Linked DNA regions of Homo sapiens: regions 1 and 2 are each reported to be linked to region 3. Evidence: microRNA targets listed by miRTarBase, many of them from high-throughput screens and not tested one by one. Region 3 holds a microRNA gene; each other region holds the end of a gene's coding sequence.
Evidence for each region. Region 3 holds the annotated microRNA hsa-miR-7107-5p (UCGGCCUGGGGAGGAGGAAGGG, at 1,027-1,048, opposite strand). A microRNA usually pairs through its seed, bases 2 to 8, with sites in the 3' UTR of a target mRNA and lowers its output. Matches are read on the target gene's strand: a 7mer-m8 pairs with bases 2 to 8, a 7mer-A1 pairs with bases 2 to 7 and ends in A, and an 8mer does both.

Region 1: the mRNA of GON7 is a reported target of hsa-miR-7107-5p. The part of its 3' UTR that is shown has no 7-base or 8-base seed match.
Region 2: miRTarBase lists PPP1R12C as a target of hsa-miR-7107-5p. Seed matches in the 3' UTR shown: 7mer-A1 at 2,786-2,792.

Annotation. Positions count from the first base shown.
Region 1 is chr14:93,200,717-93,204,049 of GRCh38, reverse strand. It overlaps GON7 (GON7 subunit of KEOPS complex), which reads left to right. Exons shown (of 2, transcript NM_032490.5): 2 at 268-1,156. The coding sequence ends at 362. Among named protein-coding and RNA genes, the nearest start is that of GON7, 4.7 kb to the left of the region's middle.
Region 2 is chr19:55,088,485-55,091,828 of GRCh38, forward strand. PPP1R12C (protein phosphatase 1 regulatory subunit 12C) reads right to left here. Exons shown (of 22, transcript NM_017607.4): 21 at 3,166-3,216; 22 at 2,434-3,074. The coding sequence ends at 2,988. Among named protein-coding and RNA genes, the nearest start is that of EPS8L1, 14 kb to the left of the region's middle. RefSeq lists an enhancer at 117-411.
Region 3 is chr12:121,443,300-121,446,299 of GRCh38, forward strand. It overlaps MIR7107 (microRNA 7107), which reads right to left and starts at 1,053; the gene lies at 974-1,053. It overlaps KDM2B (lysine demethylase 2B), which reads right to left. Exons shown (of 23, transcript NM_032590.5): 14 at 1,976-2,119; 15 at 1,151-1,237; 16 at 713-973; 17 at 381-494.

The sequences.
Region 1 (3,333 bases), not on the chromosome of region 3:
CACTCCAGCCTGGCGACAGAGCAAGACTATCTCAAAAAAAAAGAAAAAAAGAGTGGATTTTATGGTGAATGAACTAATATTTCCAAAGAGGAAAGTGATAGAAAATAAAGATTTTAAACACTGAAATTCTCAAAATCATTTTAATCTAAAATGTGCAGGTTTTATTAATCCCTAAAGTGAAATGGTCTCATTATCAACCACTTTAGCTATATATATTTCTTTCAGCCATAGAACGTATTGTCATACAACAAATATTTATTTTAAAAGGTGATGATGAAGATGATGCAGAAGATGAAAATAACATTGATAACAGAACTAACTTCGATGGACCATCTGCAAAACGGCCAAAAACACCGTCTTAACAATAGCCTTCATGACATTTAAAAGATGGCTGTTGTATCCTTATTGTCACACTAGGACATTTAAGGAAGACTTATGCTCTAATTTGGAAAAAGCATTTGTGTTGTTCTCCTGGGACAATTTTGTCAAAGAGAAAACTGGTTTTTCTGTTTCTAGCAAAGATAGTAAAGGCTTAGAAATAAAATCTGTTTTCTTGAGAAATAAATTTCAGACCCTGGAAGGAAAATAGAACACTTCATAATGTATAAAATCCTCTAAGTTGGCAACTGAATTTTTATCATTGTTTTCTATTTTTAAAATAATCATTGATTTGTGTGATGTCTACATCTTTTAACTTCTGGTTCTGTTATAAAGAGTACATGTCACGGTTCATAGGCAGTAACATTTCAGAGAACTGACATGAACAAGTAGTGAAAATTGGGCATTAAATATAAAAATAACAGTTCTTCATAAACAGAAGGAAAATAAGGAAATAGAAATACCGACGAGAAAGGAGAGTCCTTGAAAGAGACCCAAGGAAACCCTGAATTCATACCCACGTCAAATATGCACATATCCTGAGATGATGCCACTTTGATGAATGTGCATTAGTCTGATTTATCATGTACCTTAAGAGAGCCAGATGGGGTATGTTTTTGTGCTGTGATATGGTATTTATACAGGTACAAATATAAGGCCTTAAGTAAACAATCTGCATTGATTACAATTTGGATATTTCCTCTCCTCCTGTAGCCATACTTTGATTTTGCTTTAAAAAGATTATTGAATCCTTTTAAAAATATATATTCCTAAAATATGTATGTGTGTGTGTTTCTTTTCTGCTCGTCAGTGGGACTAAGGCATTTTTATTTGCTGTGCATCCTTCCTGATTTAGATAGCTTCAATGCAAAGAAATCAAGTAGCATGTACCTAGTAAAATACAAATAGTCATGGAATTTTAGAGTTGGAAGTCACTTTACAAATTATGTGATTTATTTCAGAGATAAATCTAAGGATAAGTATTTGCCCTCAGATTACAGAGCTAACCATTGACAAACTGGGTTACATAAATAGCCTTTAGATTTTTTTTAAGCTGATAAAAGGTGAGAGAAGATCAACTTTTTTTTTCTTTTTTTTTTTTTTTTTGAGACAGAGTTTCACTCTTGTTGCCCAGGCCGGAGTGCAGTGGCACAATCTTGGCTCACTGCAACCTCTCCCTCCCGGATTCAAGCAATTCTTCTGCCTCAGCCTCCCAAGTAGCTGAAATTACAGGCATGTGCCACCACGCCCAGCTAATTTTGTATTTTTAGTGGAGATGGGGTTTCACCATGTTGGTCAGGCTGGTCTCGAACTCCTGACCTCAGGTGATTCACCCACCTTGGCTTCCCAAAGTGCTGGGATTACAGGCATGAGCCACCACGCCAGGTCAATTTTTTTTTTTTTCCCAGGGTCAACTTTTTTTTCAGATGGAGTCTTGCTCTGTTGCCCAGGCTGGAGTGCAATGGTGCGATCTGGGCACACTGCAACCTCCACCTCCCAGGTTCAAGCAATTGTCCTGCTTCAGCCTCCTGAGTAGCTGGGATTGTAGGTGCACACCACCACGCCCGACTAATTTTTATATTTTTAGTAGAGATGGGGTTTCACCATGTTGGTAAGGCTGGTCTCGAACTCCTGACCTCGTGACCCGCCCGCCTCAGCCTCCCAAAGTGCTGGGATTACAGGCGTGAGCCACCGTGCGTAGCCTTTTTTTCTTTCTTTCTTTTTTAAATTTTTATTTTTAGACAGGGTTTCACTCTGTCACCCAGGCTGGAGTGCAGTGGCACGATCGCGGCTCACTGTCACTGCAACCTCCGAGTCCCAGGCTTAGGTGATCTTCCCACCTCACCCTCTCAAATAGCTGGGACCACAGGCATGCACCAGCACACCTGGCTAATTTTTTTGTATTTGTAGAGATGGTTTCACCACGTTGCCCAGGCTGGTCTAGAACTCCTGGACTCAAGGGATCTGCCCACCTCTGCCTCCCAAAGTGCTGGGATTACAGGCGTGAACCACCATGCCCGGACTAATCAACTTTTATGAATCACTTTTATTGTGAAATAATTTAAGTGAAACTCAATTTACACACTTTTTCATATCCTTGAAATATTGTTTTAGTTGGAACAGCAAGCAGCCTTCCACTAAGTACTCTTGGGCAATCAAAACAGTGCCAACTAGAAAAAGTTATGGATGGTCAGAAATTATCTTTGTTTAGTTTATGTTGATGTTTCTAACATTTAACTTATTTATTATAGTACTGTTATCTCTATACAATCATTAAAGAAAAAACTGGTTGGGCACGGTGGCTGATGGCTGTATTCCCAGCACTTTGGGAGGCCGAGGTGGGCGGATCACCTGAGGTCGAGGGTTCGAGACCAGCCCAACCAACATGGAGCAACCCAGTCTCTACTAAAAATACAAAATTTGCCTGGTGTGGTGGCACATGCCTGTATTCCCAGCTACTTGGGAGGCTGAGGCAGGAGAATAGCTTGAAACTGGGAGGCAGAAGTTGCAGTGAGCCAGTGGTGCCATTGCACACCAGACTGGGCAACAAGAGCGAAACTCCATCTCAAAAAAGAAAAGAAAAAAACTTACCTGTATATACTGAAAAGAGAGCACATTGTTAAACTGATATTTGAACCTTTTCTCTGAACATTTTATGTTTCCTCCTTTGGAAAATGTGGTTATAAAGAAGAAATTTCAAGATAATATTTGTGTTTGTGTCCCAGTGTTTTTAGGTTCTGATTTATAAGATTGGTCTTTTAATTAATTTTAATACTGATTTCAATTCTAATACTGTCTTCTTCATAAGTAAGCCATGTGTTTGACAAAGATGGACCAGTATAGAAGAAATGCTTTGCCAAGTTGCCTAATCTGCTGCTGCTCTTGGGTCTCACTGTCACTCAGGCTGGAGTACAGTGGCGCAATCAGCTCACTGCAGCCTGGAATTCCTGGGCT
Region 2 (3,344 bases), not on the chromosome of region 3:
TTTGTTCTGGGAGATGGCAGCCAACTGAAAACTTCCTAATCCCTCAAGAACTAGCTCCTTCTCCCTCTGGCAAGCCCTGTAACTTTCTTTTCCCCATTATCCAGGTGGCTGGTAAGGTCTGCTTTTCTCTGGATCCCACTGTTTTCCAGACTGGATATTCTCTGCCTTTGGGAAGAATGGCCCTTTCTCTTTCTCCCCTGGCTCTGCCTTCCCCAGATTACTGAGGGCCTCTGGGCCTCTGGGCCTCAAGCCTCTCCCGGAGTTGTTCCAACCTGGGCCACCAGATGGCGCCCTCCAAGATGGGAAAGGATCAGAGAGACGCCCCCCCACCCCCACCCCGCCCCCCGCCCTTGGGGCAGGCAGGAGTTCTCAGTCCCCACTTTGCCACCTCCTGCCTGGTTCCTTCTGGTTCCTTCCTTCCTCTTTGGATCTCCAAGAGTCCTTCTCCTATCTGCCCCGTCCCTAGATCCTATTCACATACTTCCCTTGGCTCCCTATGGCTCACCGGATAAAACCAGGCCCCAGCTTGGCAGTCACAGGTTGCCCACTCGGCTCACCAGCTTCTCCGACCACGGGGCTCAGCTTCCCTCCTCCTGCTGCCAAGCTTGGTTCATGTGGTTGCTTCTGCCCAGAATACTCTCAGCCCCTCTACCACTTGCCCGGGGCCCCACCCCTCATTCTTAGTAGGGGAATAGGAAAGGTAGGCAATTCCCCCAAACCTCTTTGCTCCATTCCCGCACCCGCCCCCCGCCCCCCAATAAGCCCCCGTGGCTCTCGCCACCTAGGCTGCAAACTGAAATGCCTGCAGGAACCCGACAAGAGACCCAAGTGAGCCAGCCGGGCCTCAGCCCTACCCCCGTCACAGGCCAGCTTGTTTGAACATCCTGGCAGCTGTATCTTCCAATATTCTCAGAACCTGACCATCTCTCACCATCTTCACTCCCATCACCCCAGCCAGAGCCACCCTCTCTCTTGCTTGGATTTCACCAGTAGACCCTTAGCTGGTCCCCCCAATCCTCACCACCAACCCCCAGCCTGTTCTCCATGCCAGAGGGACCTGTTAAAACCTAAGTCAGGCCATGGCCATGCTCCAAAAGACACCCAGAGCTCCAATCTCACAGCTCAAGCCCTTCCCAGGGCCAAGTCTCCACACAGCCACCGTGACCTCTCTAGCTTCATTCCCTGCTTTCTCCAGCTCCTCAGCTTCCTGCAGCACACCAGGTGCCCTACCCCAGGGCCTCCACACACACAGCTCCCATCATCCCTCAAATACCTACACAGCTCCCTCCCCAGGGTCTCCACACACAGAGCTCCCATCATCCAGAGCACCCTTCCCTCAAATACCTACACAGCTCCCTCTCCACCACCTTCAACCATCTGCCTGCACCAGCTTTTCCCTGAGGCCTGCCTAGACCACTCTATTCAAAACACATGTGCACACACGTGCACCCACCTTCCCAACCCCTTTCTTTTCTCCAGAGCGCCGCCACCTTGAAATACATTTATTTTAACATCGGATGCCCCCCTCCTAAAAGTATTGGATCTTTGTTTTGTTCAGTAATGATCAGTCACACTGTACTCACTCAGTCCTGTTCTTCCTGTTGGTGTTATACTAATTGTTGAATGAATGCCTCATCTCAGAAGATGGCTCCTACTCAGCTCTAGTCAACGGTGGCTATGCAGGACTGAAAAGTTCATATTGTCACAGATTCCTGTTCTTTCAAAAGAAGGCAAAATTCTTTTTGTTTTTTGTTTGTTTGTTTGTTTTTGAGATGGAGTCTCGCTCTGCTGCCCAGGCTGGAGTGCAGTGACTCGATCTTGGCTCACTGCAACCTCTGCCTCCCAGGTTCAAGCGATTCTCCTGCCTCAGCCTCCCAAGTAGAGTAGATGCGATTACAGGCACCTACCACCACGCCTGCTAATTTTTGCATTTTTAGTAAAGAAGGGGTTTCACCATGTTGGCCAGGCTGGTCTCGAACTCCTGACCTCAAATGATCTGCCCGCCTCGGCCTCCCAAAGTGCTGGGATTACAGGCGTGAGCCACCACACCCGGCCAAAATTCCAGATTTTTACACACAAATTTCTCCAAATGTTAAATGTTGGCAATTGACTAAATTTGTTTCAAAGACACTGATGGCAAAACCCAAACTCCCCAGCTCCACATCCTTGGCCCCAGAGGTCTTGCCCGCTGATCCCTCCTGCCCCATCAGCTTCCCCTCAGCCCCCCGCCTGCGATCACGCGGGCTCCGTCTTGGAGCCTTCGCTCCCGCTGGGGGCTCATCCTGAAGCTCCTTCACCACACAGGTGAGTAAGCACCAGCCCATCCCCCGGCACCCACCCAAGTGGCCCAGTGGTTTGGTCATGGACACGCACGGCCCCCCAGCAGGAGCAGGAAACAGTGCCCTCCCTCTGGCTGGGAACACAGAGCTTGAGTGGCAACTTCACGACTTTTATTTGTGGTGCCTGTGCTTTATCTCGAAAATACCTTCTCCCCCTGCCCCAGACAGTGGGCGGGGAGGGGGCAGCAAAAAATAGAAGACGTCCCTCCCTATTGCACATGGACCCTATATACAGGCCCACCTGGCTGAGGCTGGCGGGACTCTTGGCACATTCTTGGATCCCTGCTCAGGAGGGGAGGGGTGACGGGGTGGCATCACACGTGAGATGGGGACCTCCAGGCGGCCACTCTGGTCCTGGCTACTGATCCTTGCACTTCTTGGTCCTCAGTTCCTTCCTGGTCCCGTCTCTGGCCCTGGTCCCCTCTGGCAACGTCCCCCTGCTTGGCTCGGCCTCCCACCTCCATCCTGGCCTCGGGTGGCCCCCTCGGCTCCTGGGGACTCTGCTCCCCTCCCAGTCCGGAGGTCCCAGGGGGGCTATGGCTTCTCTGAGACTTCCCCCGGAGCCCTGTCACTCGTGTTCACACGGGGGAAGGGGTGCGTGTGGCAGAAGCAGCTGTATAAATACGGGTGCGGGAAAGTCCCTCCGGGTCACTTGGAGAGTTTGCTGATGACGCGGATCAACGCTGCATTCTCATCCTTGAGGCGCTGGTTGTCAGCGCGGAGGTCAGACAGGGCCTGGGGGACGGCAAGGGTCAGCTGGGCAGCCCTGGCGGGTTGCACCCCCACCCACCCTCGGCCCTCTGCCCACAGCCCCCACAGCCCCCACCTTCAGCTCCTCCTCCAGCTCTGCGGCCTTGCGTTCCAGGGCCCTGCGCTCCTGGAATGAACAGGGAAAGTGCAGAAACTGAGTGAGGCTGAGGAGGGCAGGGGAAGGCCAGGGGCCAGCTGGGAAGGGCAATGTGGCTCCCTTGGTCCAAACTTAGGGATGTGAGGCTGGGGACGCCT
Region 3 (3,000 bases):
TCAAATCATCCTCGGCTCTGGGAGCCAGTTCTGGAGCACAGCCCTGTGGGAATCCCCGGCCCAGCAGGAATGGCTAGAGCTGGGAGAGACTCCTGGCGCCACCTTGTGGCTGGTGACAGCACGGCCCGTGGGTGGAGCAGGGCCACCAGGCTCCTCAGAGGTTCCCTGGACTCACAGCTTCCATCCCAACCAACAGAGGCTCTAGGCACAGACAGCTTCCCAGGCCCCAAGCCAGAACCACGAGCCAGAGATCTGGGGCCGAGACCTGGGAAGCCTCAGGAGAGGCAGCAGTGGGGTGGAGGACCAGCGGGGTGGGGTGGGGGACAGCCCAGGACTCGCCAGTCCCCGGGGCCTCAGGAGGGCGTGCGTCGTGGGAGCACCTGCTGCTGGAAGTAAGTGAGACTGGATCTCCACCAGGGGCTGAGGCTGCTGCCTAGAGGGGGCCTCGGCGAGAGGTGAGAGGAGGAACCGGGGGACGTTTGAAGCGATGAGGCCTAAAGGGGGGTGGAGTGGGAAGAGGAGTGACTCGCTGGTTTTCCCCTCCTTTCTTTGGGGCAGGGCTCTCAGGACTTAGGTGACCTGCTCAGGGCAGCAAGAGGCCGGGATTATCCCAAGCTCTACCTGCTGCCCACCCCCTGCCCCATCCCTCCAACCCAGCACCCGGGACCAGCCAGACCAACCCCTTTGCCTCCCAGCCCCTCCTGGTCCGTACCCGCTTGCGTCCACTCAGCTCCTGGGGCTTCTCGTATTTCCGCTTCTTCCTCAGGTGCACGTCGTCAGACTTTCTGCGCAGAAGGCCGTCCGGCGGCACCTTCTTCGAGTGCTCATCCGACCTGCGCCGGGGCGCCTCCTCACACTCACTCCTCCGCTTGGCAGGTTCCTGCCCTTCCTTGTTGTCCCGGTTCATCTTCTGCTCCTTGAGCAGGGAGCCGGGCAGGTTGGAGGCGTACTTAAAGCCAGGGCCACGCTTTTGCTTGTAGGCCAAAAAGAGAGAATGAACAGACCAACTGTATACCTTTGGACTTGCCCTTCCTCCTCCCCAGGCCGACGGCAACCCACCTGCCTGAAACTCCTGGGACAGGCTGGTCCCGGCCAGGCCCAGGCCCGCCCCTCTCCCGACTGACCCTGGGACTTGGAGCCCGGCACTCACTTTCCCGGTCTTGCCGGCGTGGTTACACTTCGGACACTCCCAGCAGTTTGGAAGCTCGTCGTTGACCACACCCTCTGACTCCTTAATCTGCGGGGAACACCAGGACTCAGAAGAGGGACGGGCGGAGAAGATGGCCCACGGGCACAAGGCTCTGTGACGCCACGTCTTCCAGAAGCAGCAGCACCCCCTCCCCAACGTCACATCTATCCCGTTTCCAGGCAAAAGAAAACACAGCTGCAGAGGCTGGCAGAGACGGGCAGCTGTGGATCCAGGCCAGGGTTCAGAGGCTGAGCCCCTTTGCTTCTCTGGGACCCTGGGCAAGACACTCCGTCTCTGTGGGCTGGTGCCCTCGGCCATAAAAGTTAGTGTGCCCATCTCACTGGGGGGGTATGACCCAGGTAAAGCCATGAGCTCAGCGCCTGGCATGCAGAAAGGACTCTGCAGAGGACTCTACTGGGTGCTGGGGGAAGGAGTGTGGTGTGGGGCCTTGTTCTCCCAGAAGCCTGGAGCCACCTGGAGGCGCTTCCTCTGGCCCAGCTACAAACAAGCAGCCTGTGTTTGCCATCTGCTGAGGCTCTGGAAACCCTCTCTGGTTCTGACATCCTGGGAGGTGGGGGTGTGTTTATTCCTTTGATGACACTGGGTCTCTGAGGTACTCCAGGCCCTCCTTGCCCCGGGCTTATCCCTTGACACACAGGATCACCCAGACTCAGGGGTCCTCCAGGAATTCACTGCACGACCTGCATCCCACCATCTCACCAGCATCTCCAGCAACCCTACCTGCCCCAGAGCGTCAGCACCACCTGTCCCCACTGGGCCACTCACCTTAAGGCATCCAGGGTGGATGATTTCATTGCAGATGGAGCACTCCATGAGCATGAGGTTAAACTTGCCTTCCTCCTCTTCCACCGTGTCTTCCTTCCCCGCCTCGCCACACACAAGGCACACGGCGGTGTGGGGCAGCACTGGCTGAGGAGCCAGGGAGAACAAGACAAGTCATCAGGGGTGGGGAGCACGGACCCCCAGGGGGGCCAGTTCAAGGGCAATGAGCTGCTCCCCTTGGGCCTGCCAGGAGACCCCCGGAAAGTGGCCCAGGCACATTCGCTCACTCATTCATTGAAATACGTATCAGGCTACTACCTCCACATGCCAGATACTACTCTTAATTGCTGGGGATACAGCAAGGAACAAGACAGCTCAAAATCTCTGCCATCCAGAGCTTACATTTTAGTGGAGGGAGGCAGACAAAATGGACAGAGCATGTTAGAGACAGAGACATGGGGAAAAATTAGAGGGCTGGAGTGAGGGGCAGAAGGGGGGCTGATTTTAAATATGGAGGTCAGGGAAGGCCTCACATTCAGAAAAGCCCCAAAGGAGCAGGGGCGTGAGCGCAGCCCAGATCCATGCGGATGAGATGAAGCTGCATCTCACCAGTGGGTATTCAAGGCACAGACCATGGACTGCGGGCTCCCAAGACCTTTACAGAAAGGTTAGGAGGTCAGAACTGTCTTCAGAATAACAGACGTTATTTGCCTTTTGCACAGTATTGATATTTGTACTGGCGGGTGAAACTCCTGGCCCCTCAGCACCAGGCAAGGCAAGGCCCCCAGCTCACCAGCAGCCATGGGGTGACTCATGCCATACGCTTATTAAAAAGATCACCAGGCCGGGCGCGGTGGCTCACGCCTGTAATCCCAGCACTTTGGGAGGCCAAGGCGGGCGGATCACAAGGTCAGGAGATCGAGACCATCCCGGCTACCACGGTGAAACCCCGTCTCTACTAAAAATACAAAAAGAAATTAGCCGGGCGTGGTGGCGGGCGCCTGTAGTCCCAGCTACTCGGGAGACTG